2 linked regions of the Homo sapiens genome follow. The protein of the gene in region 1 purifies or fractionates together with the protein of each later gene. This does not show direct contact. Each region holds a gene or a part of one and is shown on either strand. Other genes may lie near its edges.

Evidence for each region. The genes of interacting proteins can lie anywhere in the genome.
Region 2: the proteins of ZNF488 (region 1) and CTH purify together in Homo sapiens (affinity purification with mass spectrometry; 2 studies listed by BioGRID and IntAct, with this or other methods). This does not show direct contact.

What each region holds. Positions count from the first base shown.
Region 1 is NC_000010.11:47,374,281-47,381,312, reverse strand, and holds part of ZNF488 (zinc finger protein 488), read left to right. Parts: intron 1-451; exon of another isoform or gene 452-1,805; intron 1,806-6,773; exon of another isoform or gene 6,774-6,852; intron 6,853-7,032. UniProt on the Homo sapiens protein: Transcriptional repressor. Plays a role in oligodendrocyte differentiation, together with OLIG2. Mediates Notch signaling-activated formation of oligodendrocyte precursors.
Region 2 is NC_000001.11:70,435,261-70,440,376, reverse strand, and holds the end of CTH (cystathionine gamma-lyase), read right to left. Parts: intron 1,690-5,116; coding exon 1,551-1,689; intron 1,277-1,550; coding exon 1,250-1,276; 3' UTR 526-1,249; downstream 1-525. UniProt on the Homo sapiens protein: Catalyzes the last step in the trans-sulfuration pathway from L-methionine to L-cysteine in a pyridoxal-5'-phosphate (PLP)-dependent manner, which consists on cleaving the L,L-cystathionine molecule into L-cysteine, ammonia and 2-oxobutanoate.

The DNA.
Region 1 (7,032 bases):
GAGGTATTTTCTGCTCTTGTGTGTTTTAACTGAAGAGAAAAGCAGATGCAGCAAAGCACTGCTTGGGGGGAGCGGGTGGGGGTACATGGTGTCTCTGAATAAGATCTGGTGCCTGACCTGCAGCTCAGAACAGCTTGAGGCTGGCCAGTTGGCTTGGGTTAGGGAGTGACTTCAGACATCCCAGGAAAAAGAGGTTATCCAGATGTTTGCCAAGAGTTCTTTCTTCTGTAGGTGGAGCAGGAAGGAGAAAAATGCCCAGGCTGTTTGGTCATTTATTAAACACTGTTATGCACTGGTCCCTGAGAGCTCAGGAGTAATGGGAAGGCTGCCATGGAGTGGACTCTGTCCCTTTGCACTCAGTGCGATAAGAAGTGATACCCCTAATGTTTACTGAGCCAGGTTCCTTAGCACTTTCTCTATATTAATCCTTCTAATCTTTCCCACAACCCAGTGAAGAAAACACCAAGGTGACCCTCTTTATAGATCAGAAAACAGGCCTGGAGGGGACCCACGCCTTGCCCAAGGTCACAGGTTGGATACAGCAGAGCTGGCCTCCAACCGTGGAGCCCGTGCACTTAACATCTATTTGGATGGAAGGCTCGAAGGTTACCTGAGACAACCTGGTCAAGGTGATAATGTGGGAGAATGTGGCCAGTGGTTCCCAGATGAGTGAATGATCAGTGTGCAGTCACCAGAGGATGGGTGATAAACCGAGAACCACAAGCTCTTAACACTGTGGGGTGGGCGAGGCTTCATCTCCCAGGATGCAGCACTTGCTGAGTTGGGCAACAGGGGACCCTGGTTGATGGCCCAGGTTGGTTGGAAGCCTTTGGGAGATGTGCTCTGTGTTGGTGGGGAAGGCCAGGCATGGTTAGATCCCCTGTAGACTTGGGGAGCTCAGTTTCAGAAAGTTTCAAAGATCATCACTTGATTTCTGTGATTCACGTGATCTGAGGGCTCTGAAAGTGGTGGGTGAGTCCTGGAATTAAATCTGTTTTTTTCAAGTAGGAAAGACATGGGGTGGCAATGAGAGACATCTGTGTGGCTCAGAAAGATGTCTTGCTGAGGTCAGAGGGACAAGAGCCAAGGAGAACAAGAGGAGCCCTTCCCAGGACACTCACAATGACAGAGTGACGAGGGCCAGTAAAGAGTGTCAGGGGGTGAGAGCCCGGGTGTGAACTGAACCTACTGAGGAGAGCTGACGACCACAAAGCATCTTTTCATATCATGTTCGGAGCAAGGAGAACAAGGGCTTCATAGATCCATCGCCGTCTAGGGCAGCTGGTGTCTGTGAAGGGGAGGAAGGCACAGCTCCACTGTGCCCACAGCGGTCTGGACAGAGGAGGATCTGCAGGTGCAAAGGGCGCAGGCAGGTTCCCGGAGGAAAGCAGGAGCCACGTAGCGTGGGCTGCAGTGTGTGTGCTCAGGGCTCTGACCAAGAGAATGCCCTGGCCAGGGTATAGCATGACCTGGAATGAGATACCCCCATCTGAGGTGCTGTCTGAGAGGTGTTGGAAATGAAGCCCGGAGGTGGAAGAGACTCAAATCTGATGTTGGCCCTGGGAAAGATCCTAGACTAAGAAGAAGGCTGTGAGTCTGTGGGCAAAGGAGAGACGTGCATGAGGAGCTGGCGGGGGCTCCCTGGGGACAAGTCATGCCAGCCTCACGTCATTTTCCACCTTGCAGGTCTTCGGTCTGGCCCTTGTTCTGTTGGGGTTCTGGAGGACGTGCTGTGCCCTGGCCTTACTGACCTTACTCCATGCAGTGCTGATGCATGCGACAGCGGTGACCCTCCAGGGTCCCAGGTGGGATGAAAGGTCCCCAGCTAGTTCCTAGTTTCATCTCCTCATTTTCTCCATCCTCCTGCTCCTTCTTATTAAGATCTGGATGTTAACATTGATGGAGTGTGAAGCTGGGTGGGATATTTAATTCAGCAGTTGGCGGTGTCAGGATCCACAGTGGTCTCTGAAAGCTGAGATGCTGCCCTGAGTTTATCGGGATGGCATTTGGCAGATTGGAGATAAGTGCATCTGAATTGAGACACATAGCTTCCCTCATATGGTTTTTATGAAAATGAAATGAACAAGGTGCCTTATTTCATTTGTTAATACTATTGTTTGTCATGTAGATACTTACGTAGCCGATAAATGGTAACTTCTATTCTGATACCCTGAAGCATCCTGATAGCAAATGTTCCATCCTGCTGTAAAGGAGAACTGGTTTCTTCCAATTAGTCATACATGAGTAGGTCTGGGATGGCCTGGAGAGACAGCTTAGCCAGAGCGCATTTTACAGATGGAAACCTGAGGCTCAGAGAGGTTGAGTGCTTTGCTCGGGAACACAGAGAGGAGTGATGTTTCTGCCTCTGCCTCTTTGGGAGACACTGGCCGACATTCACCTCTGACGTCAGGCACCCCCTCTGAGGAATCCACTCAAAAAGGGCATCAGGAGTGGTGTGGAGCCTGCTGCACCACGTGGTTTGCGTCCTCTTCATGAAGTCACACGGGGTGGTCTGCAGGGCAAGGCGGGGTGGCGATGTTCCACAGGAGCTAGTCAAAAGCTTGTGACAAAAGGGAACGTGAGGTTTTATGTTCACTTTTCTTGCTTTCTCTCTGATTTATCCCATGCTTTCACTCCATGAGAGGGTTGGGCTCTCTGTCTCATCTCCTTGAGAGCTCCTGCAGGAAGTGGCTGGACGCAGGTACATCCTTTCATGGCTGGGCGGGAAGCAGGGAGAGGAAGAAGCTGATTTGGCCCAGGCTATATTTATGCATAGCAAGCCATGGAGGCTCTCATCCACTCCTAGATTCTCCCTGAGCCCTGGGATAAATATTTTCTAAGGATGAGAATTCTGGAATGCTGAGTGGAGTCTGGTTCTGCCAGTACCTCTCACCAGTGGAGGGGGCACTTGAAGAGCTTGAGTTCTAGTTTCCAGAACTTGAGGGTGGGGCTGGTGAGAGCGGGTAGGGATGAAGGCATCCCAGCAGGGCTGATACCACCTCCCCATGGGTGCCACCTTTACATGTGGTCAGTGCATGTCTTCCCTTCCACACCGTGGGCACTTCCAGGGTGAGGCTGAAAGCTGGTCCATCCATGGAGGTCCAGTTTGGCACAGGCAGGCAGTTCGCGAAGCTCTGCCAGGGGAGCAGAGAAGCGAGTGGATCCATGTGTGGGGAGAACCAAGAGTGAGCACTTCTGGCGAGTGGAGATGAGGTTACACATGCTCTCTCTAGGGGCAGGGCCAGGTGGTGGGGTGGCAGCCCCTTAGTGTGGGGGTGGGGGCCAGGCACAGCCAGACCCATCCTGCCAAGCCTGCATGTGCATTGCTCCAACTTTTGTCCTTCTGTGCACCTATGCCTACAGATCCCCTGTCCCCAGGTGCCTGAAGTGGCCTGGCACTCCTGAGGGTCAGGAGAAAAAATGAGTATGGCAACCAGCAAGGAAGGAAAACTGCCCTCAACCAGGGTGCAAACACAGTCGAATTAAGTCAGAGCTGGCAGGCAGAAGCCCTGTGTGCTCTGTGAATGTGGCAGCTGCTGCTAGATGCTGACAGGTGCAGGGGCAGGGCTGAGCCGGCGCCTCCGGGTGGCAGCCGTGTGTGTGTGTGTGTGTGTGTGTGTGTGTGTGTGTGTGTGTGTGTGATTGTTATTGCTGGCTCCTCTGGGTGGCAGCCATGTGTGTGTGTGTGTGTGTGTGTGTGTGTGTGTGTGTGAGATTGTTATTGCCGGCATCTCTGGGTGGCAGCTGTGTGTGTGTGTGAGTGTCTGTGTTTGATTGTTATTGTTCTGTGAGAGAGTCCTGGAGGTATAGTGCTCTGAGCTGAGGTGAGTTGTCACATCCATAGCAATCAGGATTCTTTGGATGCAAACCACAGCGATGGACTCTGGCCAACTTTGTGAAGAAGGAATTAATTAGAAGGTTATGGTGGCAGGTAGATCACAGTGTCAGAGGAAGAACTGGAGAAATAAGCTCAAAAAAGACCGGGATTGAGCTATTCAGAGAGTTCCAGTACCAGGCACACATAAGCAGCTTCTCAAACTGAAACTGGGTTTGGTTAGGAAGGATGCTGAGTAGCATAAAACAGAACCAAGCCATCTGACTGCTCTTGTCGTAGAGATCGCGTATTCCTCCTTTCCTGTCAGCTGGTTTAAAAACCTGGGGCAAAGGGGGACCCTGCAGTCCACCCCACTCTTCCTGAGATGCCCTGCGGGGGTTGCAGAGATAGATCAAACACAGGCTGTCTCTCCCCAGGGACCAACAGTCCAGTAGGTGATAGCGGCAACACTGACTATGGCCAGGCAGGCTGCTGAAGGTGGTCTCTGCAACCCGAGTCAGCATGGCAGCCCTGACGGTGTTTTGGTGTGAGCAGCTCGCAGATGCAGCCCAGTTGTTTTGCTTTCTGGGCTGCTTCTTGAGGGTCACCTCAAGTCTGCACACAAGGGTAGAGCTGCAAGCTCTGGAGGGAAATAGCACTGGGTTATAATTTCCACTGGAGGACATCTATAATTTCATGTCTCTGAGTGTGAGTTTGGCCACAGGCTCCTCTGTAGGTGTCTGCACGGGAACCAGTGAGGACCCTCAGGCTTGAGCCCCCATTCTGCTGGATCTGGTGGTCTGGAAGGCTGGGCATAGTGTGACTGCCTCAGCCCCTCCATTTGTGCTAGGGCTGGGGGAGAAGGAGGATGGGGTGGGGAGTTCTCTGACTTTGCACGGTGGGAGTACACCCTTCTTGGAGGATATGAGTGCAAATGGATGTCAAGGAGCCCAGAGCTCTTCAGAGCAAAGAGCTGGGCAAATTCCTGGCTCCCACTCTAACTCTCTCTCCTTATTCTCCCATACCTCCCTCGGCAGGGTTGAATTTCACAATTGGGTCTGACCTGGCTTAGTGTGAATGAAAAGTGGTCGTTTACAGGAATCCTCTCTGTCTCGCTGAATTCCTGCCCCTCAGTCTTTTCCTCACGATTGAAATATACCCAGCCCTTCTTTTCCACTAGGACTTTGCCTGTGCCATCTTACCATCCCTGATTGGTGAACTCGTATTCATCCATCAACACCCAGAGATAATATCACCTCCTCAATGGGACATTCCTCAGGCACCCCAGGCAGTCCATGGTCCATCCCTGATCTTGAAGCATTTCTCCCAAACCACTCAAGTGGGCTTGTCTCCATCCCAGGTCCTGTTACGAAGAGGTGTTTTTCTCTCTCATTGCATGTGGAGCAATACTTCCATGCTATTCATCCTGTTATCACAGAATAAAAGAACGACTGTCTCCCCTAAGAGATATGGTGTGGGTCCCTGTGGCTAGACCATGTGATCTTACCCATAAACAGTCCTCACAAACACTCTCGATTTACGTCTAACCCACTCTTGTCACTGCCTGGCATTCGCGTGTGCCGTTCTTTCTGCCCTCTCTTTTCTTTGTATCTGTCTGCCCTTTGGAGGCCTCCTGCCTCTTCCAGGAGGGTCTCTCTGATTATTCTGGTGCCCAGAATTAGAAAGTATATGGGGTACATGCTGTGGTGTGTGGTAAGTGTTTAACAGCTGGTTCTCAGCATGTAGCTGCAACATGGATTTTGGGTGATATTTTCATTTACAATAAAGTGTAAGATGAAAGTGGAACAATGAACATATGTCAGAACTTCACTTGTTTGTCAGTGATCTAAATAACTTCTTTCCTAAATCACATAATAGTTTCGGAATACTAGAAGAATAGTCCCTCAGCTTTTTGTGAGCTATTCACAATATAACAGCTATCGACAAGACAAAAATTTCAGTTTAATCTGCATTATTGACAATTTTTTTCCATTACTTTCTTAAGTCCAGACAATGAACAAAACAAGAAATCAAGCCTTGATTTATAGCATTTCCATAAATAATCCCATTCTGGCTGATTCCCTGATTTCTGGCCACTCACGATATCCCTGGATGTGGCATGAGGAGGAGTGGACCGTGGCAAGCCCCCGCACCGGCAGGTGGAGCAGCGTCCACAGCGTAGGCAATGGGAATGTGTAGTAGAATGACTAGGAAATGATGGGTTCTGAGTATGTATTGCCTGTGTTTTTAATATAACTTCTTTGACTGTAAGTTTGTATAGTTTAGTTTTGAATAATGTCTGAGTTAAAACAGCTAACTTGAAACATTCCTGATCATCTCACAAGCCACTGTGAGCTGGCTCCAGCACACCACTGGCTGCATACCAAGAAAATCAAGTTGCAGGCAGAGACGAAAACCTTCAGACAGAATTGCGTGGCTGTGTCCACTCAGTTTCGTCAGGGGGTGAGCTTTATTAAGTGCCACAGTAACAGATACTGTCATTGGTTCAGTCAACAACTGTTTCTAACCCCATCTCACTTGGCTTTCCTGCACTGCAGAGGTTGGGAAGCTAAATCCATGTTTCCCAGACTCTTTTGCAGCCAGGGTGCAGGCCTTTGACACAGATCCTCACAAGCAGCCAGATACATCACCCAGCCCCGGATGTGCAGTCGAGTCCCATGAGCTGAAGTCTTTGGCATGCAGGTGATATCTGTCACTCACGGTGGCAGGGACATCTGGACTTGTGGGGTGGCTGTGGTGGACTTTGTAGGAGTTTGGTCCCTTGTGATTGGTGCTGGTACCAGCAGTTTCTACTAGACAGTGCCAGGGCATGGTTAGGCTTTTTTTTCTGGCTACCCTGACCCTTGGAGAGCTCCCAAGCTTGGTCTCTGGCTCTCACAGGGATTTAATGAGCTGCATGATAGCCTTTAATAAGTTCCTTTCTGTTTAAACTACCCAGGTAGAGGCTGCTGTCTGCAGGTGGGAAGCCCTGATTGCTGGAACCTAAGGGATGTGAGAAATCACTGTGGAGTGTCAAGGTAACCAGGGATCTGCTCCTGGGACCTATTAATCCACCTCTTTTAGAAGGAGTCCACAGTCCTGTTTGTATTTGAATATTCATGAACATTAGAAGAGCAACTTAGTCTGGGTATGGCTATGGCTGACAGAAGTATCATGCTGTGTCACAGCTGATTATTAGATCTGCATTTTTTGCCCTT
Region 2 (5,116 bases), on another chromosome or scaffold:
GTCGCCCAGGCTGGAGTGCAGTGACGCCAGTGCAGTCTGGAACTCCTAGGCTCAAGGAGATCCTCCACCTCAGCTGTCCAAGTAGCTAGGACTACAAGGACGTACCACCAGGCCCAAAAGATTCTATTTTTAAACATACCTTCTTTTATTCTCAACAAATGCACTATTTCAGATAAAAATATAAAAAGTACTATTTATCTGTAAAACGGTGGCCTTTAACCTACCTTGGATAGGATTTATAACTAATCTGCAAACACTAAGATTTGGGAATAATATTTATTTAATTGAATTTATAAAAATTAACATAAAAGGCTAAGACCTCTAAGAGCAGTAGTTGGGAATTAAAAGGACCCAGGAATATAGGTTAATGTCACATAATGTAGGAATATCACAATGGGATGCATTTGATAATTAGATTTTTTTTTTTTTTGAGACGGAGTCTCGCTCTGTCACCCAGGCTGGAGTGCAGTGGCACGATCTCGGCTCACTGCAAGCTCCTCCTCCTGGTTTCACGCCATTCTCCTGCCTCAGCCTCCCAAGTAGCTGGGACTACAGGCACCCGCCACCACGTCCGTCTAATTTTTTTTGCATTTTTAGTAGAGATGGGGGTTTCACTGCGCTAGCCAGGATGGTCTCAATCTCCTGACCTCGTGATCCGCCCGCCTTATCCTCCAAAAGTGCTGGCATTACATGCGTGAGCCACCGCGCCCAGCTGATTTATTTTTTTAAAAATATTAAGTATAGTCTTAAATCAGTAGAATTTCACAGTAAACTTTTCAAGTATTTGATTTTCGGCTTATGGTAACTAAGTGTAAACCATTGCTTTTAATGTTCTTTTCAATGATATGCAAAAAAATCACACTTGATTTAAGAACATTCGTTTAAATTTAAATTCTTCACAAAACATCAAAAATGAATTACCATTATATTATAAACATGATCAAAATAAATCTTAGACATGAAAAAAGAACATAATCTCCCAAAGTAGCACAAATCTCACCTCCTTCAGAGGCAAACATAGAGCAAAATTAACAAAAAGATATTAACAGAATTGACCTGTAATTATAACATGACATACAGAAAACTTTTTAACAGAGATGATCCCTAAGAAAATTACAGTTATGAAAGATAATGAGGTGCCTTAAAATTTCCGCTTGAAAATTTTGCAAAGGCTCATTGTTGGTCCATTTAATTACTCAGGAAGATTTGATCTTCACAGGAAGCAGCTTCTAATAGCAGCTCTGGAATACTAGCTGTGACTTCCACTTGGAGGGTGCTATAATAACAGTGCACAAGAAAAATATGTTATTAAACATATAGGCCATAGCTTCAACTCCTCAAGAAGTCCTTTTTCTGAATACTACCATCCTTTAAATATGCACTTTGACTGAGCTCCCTATACGTTTATTTATACACCTGGTCTATTACAGGAACAGAAAAGCTTTAGAGTTCACAGTGAGACCACACTTTGTAAATATAGTGACCCCCCATGCCCAAGATAAAGCAGACACACACACACACACACACACACACACAATAATAAGACTTACTGCTGCCTTCAAAGCTTGATCTAGATCTTCCAGTAGGTCTTCCTCATCCTCTAAGCCCACAGAAAGTCGAATCAGTGTGTCACTAATTCCAAGGACATCTCTGTCATTCTTAAGAACTGATGCATGAGTCATGATTGCCCTGAAAGAAGACATGAGCAAATTTTTGATCACTATATTGTGTCAGTGGAGGCATGTTTCTGTCTCATAAACTGCAATTACCCTCAACATTTTTCTGGTCCAAATATCAAATTTTGCATACCCCTATAATTCACAGGCAAAAAAAGAGAAAATTACGAAACTTATCTCTTCTAGCTATGATTTTAAATGAAAAGCAAGATTGTTTTTATCCTGTTTATACCATTGGTAAGATATGCTCAATCCAAATACTGAAAGTGTGTGTCAAGTACCCCCATGCAGTAGGGTAAGGCATAGCCTCCCCAATGTGTATATTTTAATACCTGCCTAAATGAAGTTTGGCCAGAAATCATGTACTCCATGACCAACCTACTGGATTGCTACTTATAAGAGGTCTCTTGGACCAAGAGCCTGTCATAATTAGTTTCCTCTGAATCAATCCAGAGCTAGACCTTCTGAGGCACATCGGAGAAAGATGACCAAGAATCACTAGTAGCAACCAGTAAGCATTCAGAATTCCACAATATAACTCCTGGCATAGAGGCCTGGAAGGATTTTTCAAACGATCTAGCAGCCCATTACCATCATCAACAGATGTAAAGGAAAACCACCCATAATATGTCAAGCACTGCAGTAAAAATTGGGAAACCAAGAAGAATGAGATATTTTCTTTAACCTAAATAACAAAGCAGGAGGTAAAAGCGATGACAATTCACAAAACAAAATAGTCTATATAAACAATGCCAAACAAGTATAGACAAAAAGACTGCCAAGTTCCAGGGAAGGAGAAATTTCTGTGAAGAATAATGGAGGAGAGGTTTAGCATCTTACTTAACCCCAGTATGTGTATTACAACCAACACTCTTCCTTTCCCTGCACACCACCAGCAAAATCAATACCTAAGCTGCTTTCTCCTCTCTTACATGAGAGCCATGGGGAAAAAAAAATCTCAGCTGTGGTCTGAGTGATGGATATCTTCCTTTGTCACTTTACTAAAGTGTTGTTTAGATACAAACATCCATCTTAAAATGTTCTGCCCTGGGAGACTCGTAATTCCTTAAAAGAGTGTGTACATGTAGAAATAAGAACTCAGGTCTCAGAGACCAACAAACTTGGGTATGAATCTTAGCCCTTCCACATACTGCCTATGTGGCCTTATAAAAGTTACTCATCCTCAGTGCCTATTTCCTTATCTGAAATAATAATAGATGCATCTACTGTGTGCTTACCATGAGACAGATACTCTACTAGGTGGTTTGTGTGCATTAATTCATTTTTTTAATGAATAAAAATTGGATATAACACCTGTCTTAAAGGTTTGTCACAGACATTAATTTGAAGGAACATGTATAAAGCACTTCTAAGCACTTGGAATGTAGTAGAGATGTCTAATAAAAGATAATAGTTCATAGTAGGTGCTAACGTTTATTGGGTACTTAGTATGAACGAAGGCATTAGCTTAGGGATTTTTTTCCCCATGTTCTCGCAACAAACCTAAGAGCTATGTAGAGTGTTGTCCACATTTTAAAATTGAGGAAATTGAGATTTAGGGAGGATGAGTAACTTTTCTAAGGTCACAGAGTTACATGTGTTGTGAGGCTGGGAGACTAAGCTAATACACATTAGCTTCACTTCCTTCCTCCCATATTGCAATGCTGCACTAGTAGCAGCAGAGTTGGGAGACACAGAATGAAGGGTGATAGAACAGACAAGCCCTGACCTAAATCCACTCATCCTCTGGCATCGGGGTTATAGCCTAAACCAGAGTGTCTGGGGGCCAAGCAACTTTAAACAAAAATCCCTAAATAAATCAGGAGAGATTTATTTTAAGACAATTTTTTAAACAAGAGAGTCTTAACGTAATACACATTTCATTACTGTGAAAAACAAACCCATTTCACATGCTGAGTGTGCCCTCTTGTGCATCCAAACTTACTAGCAGGCATCTTCCGGAAAGACTAACAAAAATCTGCGTTACATGAATTATTTCAAGTCATTATTTAGACATCTTTTTTTTTTTTTTAACTTGGTGAGACTGCCTGACTTTTGGTCTAACTGTAAACTCCTATACAAAGACAGAAAATAGGCCTAAACTTTGGTGGGACCTGACATTTCTCCACACAATGCTTGCAAAACAAGTTATTCCATAAATGTTTATAAAAATGAAGACACAGAAATACACCGTATACATTTAGTACAGTTAAAAATAGTTAGGTTATGATGTTGACTTAACCCTGCAGTAATTACAACATATGGTCATAGTAGCATATAATAAAGGTAATATATATATCAGGAATGCTTGGGGGGACAGGTAATCAATAAATGATAATCATTAATTTTTTGTTGTTGTTTTGGTTCTTTTTTGAGACAGAGTCTCGCTGCATCACCCAGGCTGGAGTGCAGTGGTGCGATCTTGGCTTGCTGCAACCTCGGCTCACTGCAACCTCCATCACTTGGGTTCAAGCGATTCTCGTGCCTTAGCCACCCAAGTAACTGGGATTATAGGTGTACACCACCACACTCGGATAATTTTTTTTTTTTTTAGGAGAGACAGGGTTTCACCATGTTGGCCAGGCTGGTCTTGAACTCCTGACCTCAAGTGGCCCACCTCGGCCTCCCAAAGTACTGGAATTGCAGGCGTCAGCCATTGCACCAGGCCGAAAATCATTAATTATTAATCTCATTTTATGTGTTAAAAAATGGAAGTTTAAAGGTTAACTAATTGGTGGAAGCAGATCTCAAATCTAGATCCAAGCACCTTTTACCTCCCCTCACTGTTTCTGATGCAAATCCAAGAGTGAAGCTGCGAACACGTTCCTGTGTGACACTTGAGTCAATCAGCTCAACTTTCTGGATCTTTGTTTCCTTGCCTGTAAAATAAGCTGCTGGACTGTATGATCTTAGACTGCTTCTTGTACCAATATCCTCTGATGCTTTGAAAAAACTAGATGAATTGATTGGGTTAGATACTGAAGGGCCTGGTACCAAGTTAGGGTTTGGATTTATCTTGTACACAACATGAAGACATTAAAGGTTTATCCTACAGAGAACAGAAAACAAAAGATTTGACAGTATCTAGTAGGGCTGTTCTCCAACAATCAAGGGCATGGAGGAGTTTCATCAGAGACACATTTTCTGTTTCCCAAAGAGCCTTGAAAACAGCTTTTCTAGTACAAAGTCTCCAATCCCCTCTAAGGCTGAGTAGGGTAGAACATGTGGCCCTTGCTTAGAGGTCAGAGATCAGAGATCCTAGAATACAGTTACTGCTGGAATCTCTTTTTGACAGAGCAGGGAAGGAAGCAACATTTGGGAGGACACCGCTCACTAACAAGAAGCCCTCCATGAGATTTTATCAGGGTCTCCATCTTGACAGGGTTAGAGTCCATTCTGATTAATGTCCTGCTATTCTTATTGTTAAATATCTTGAATTA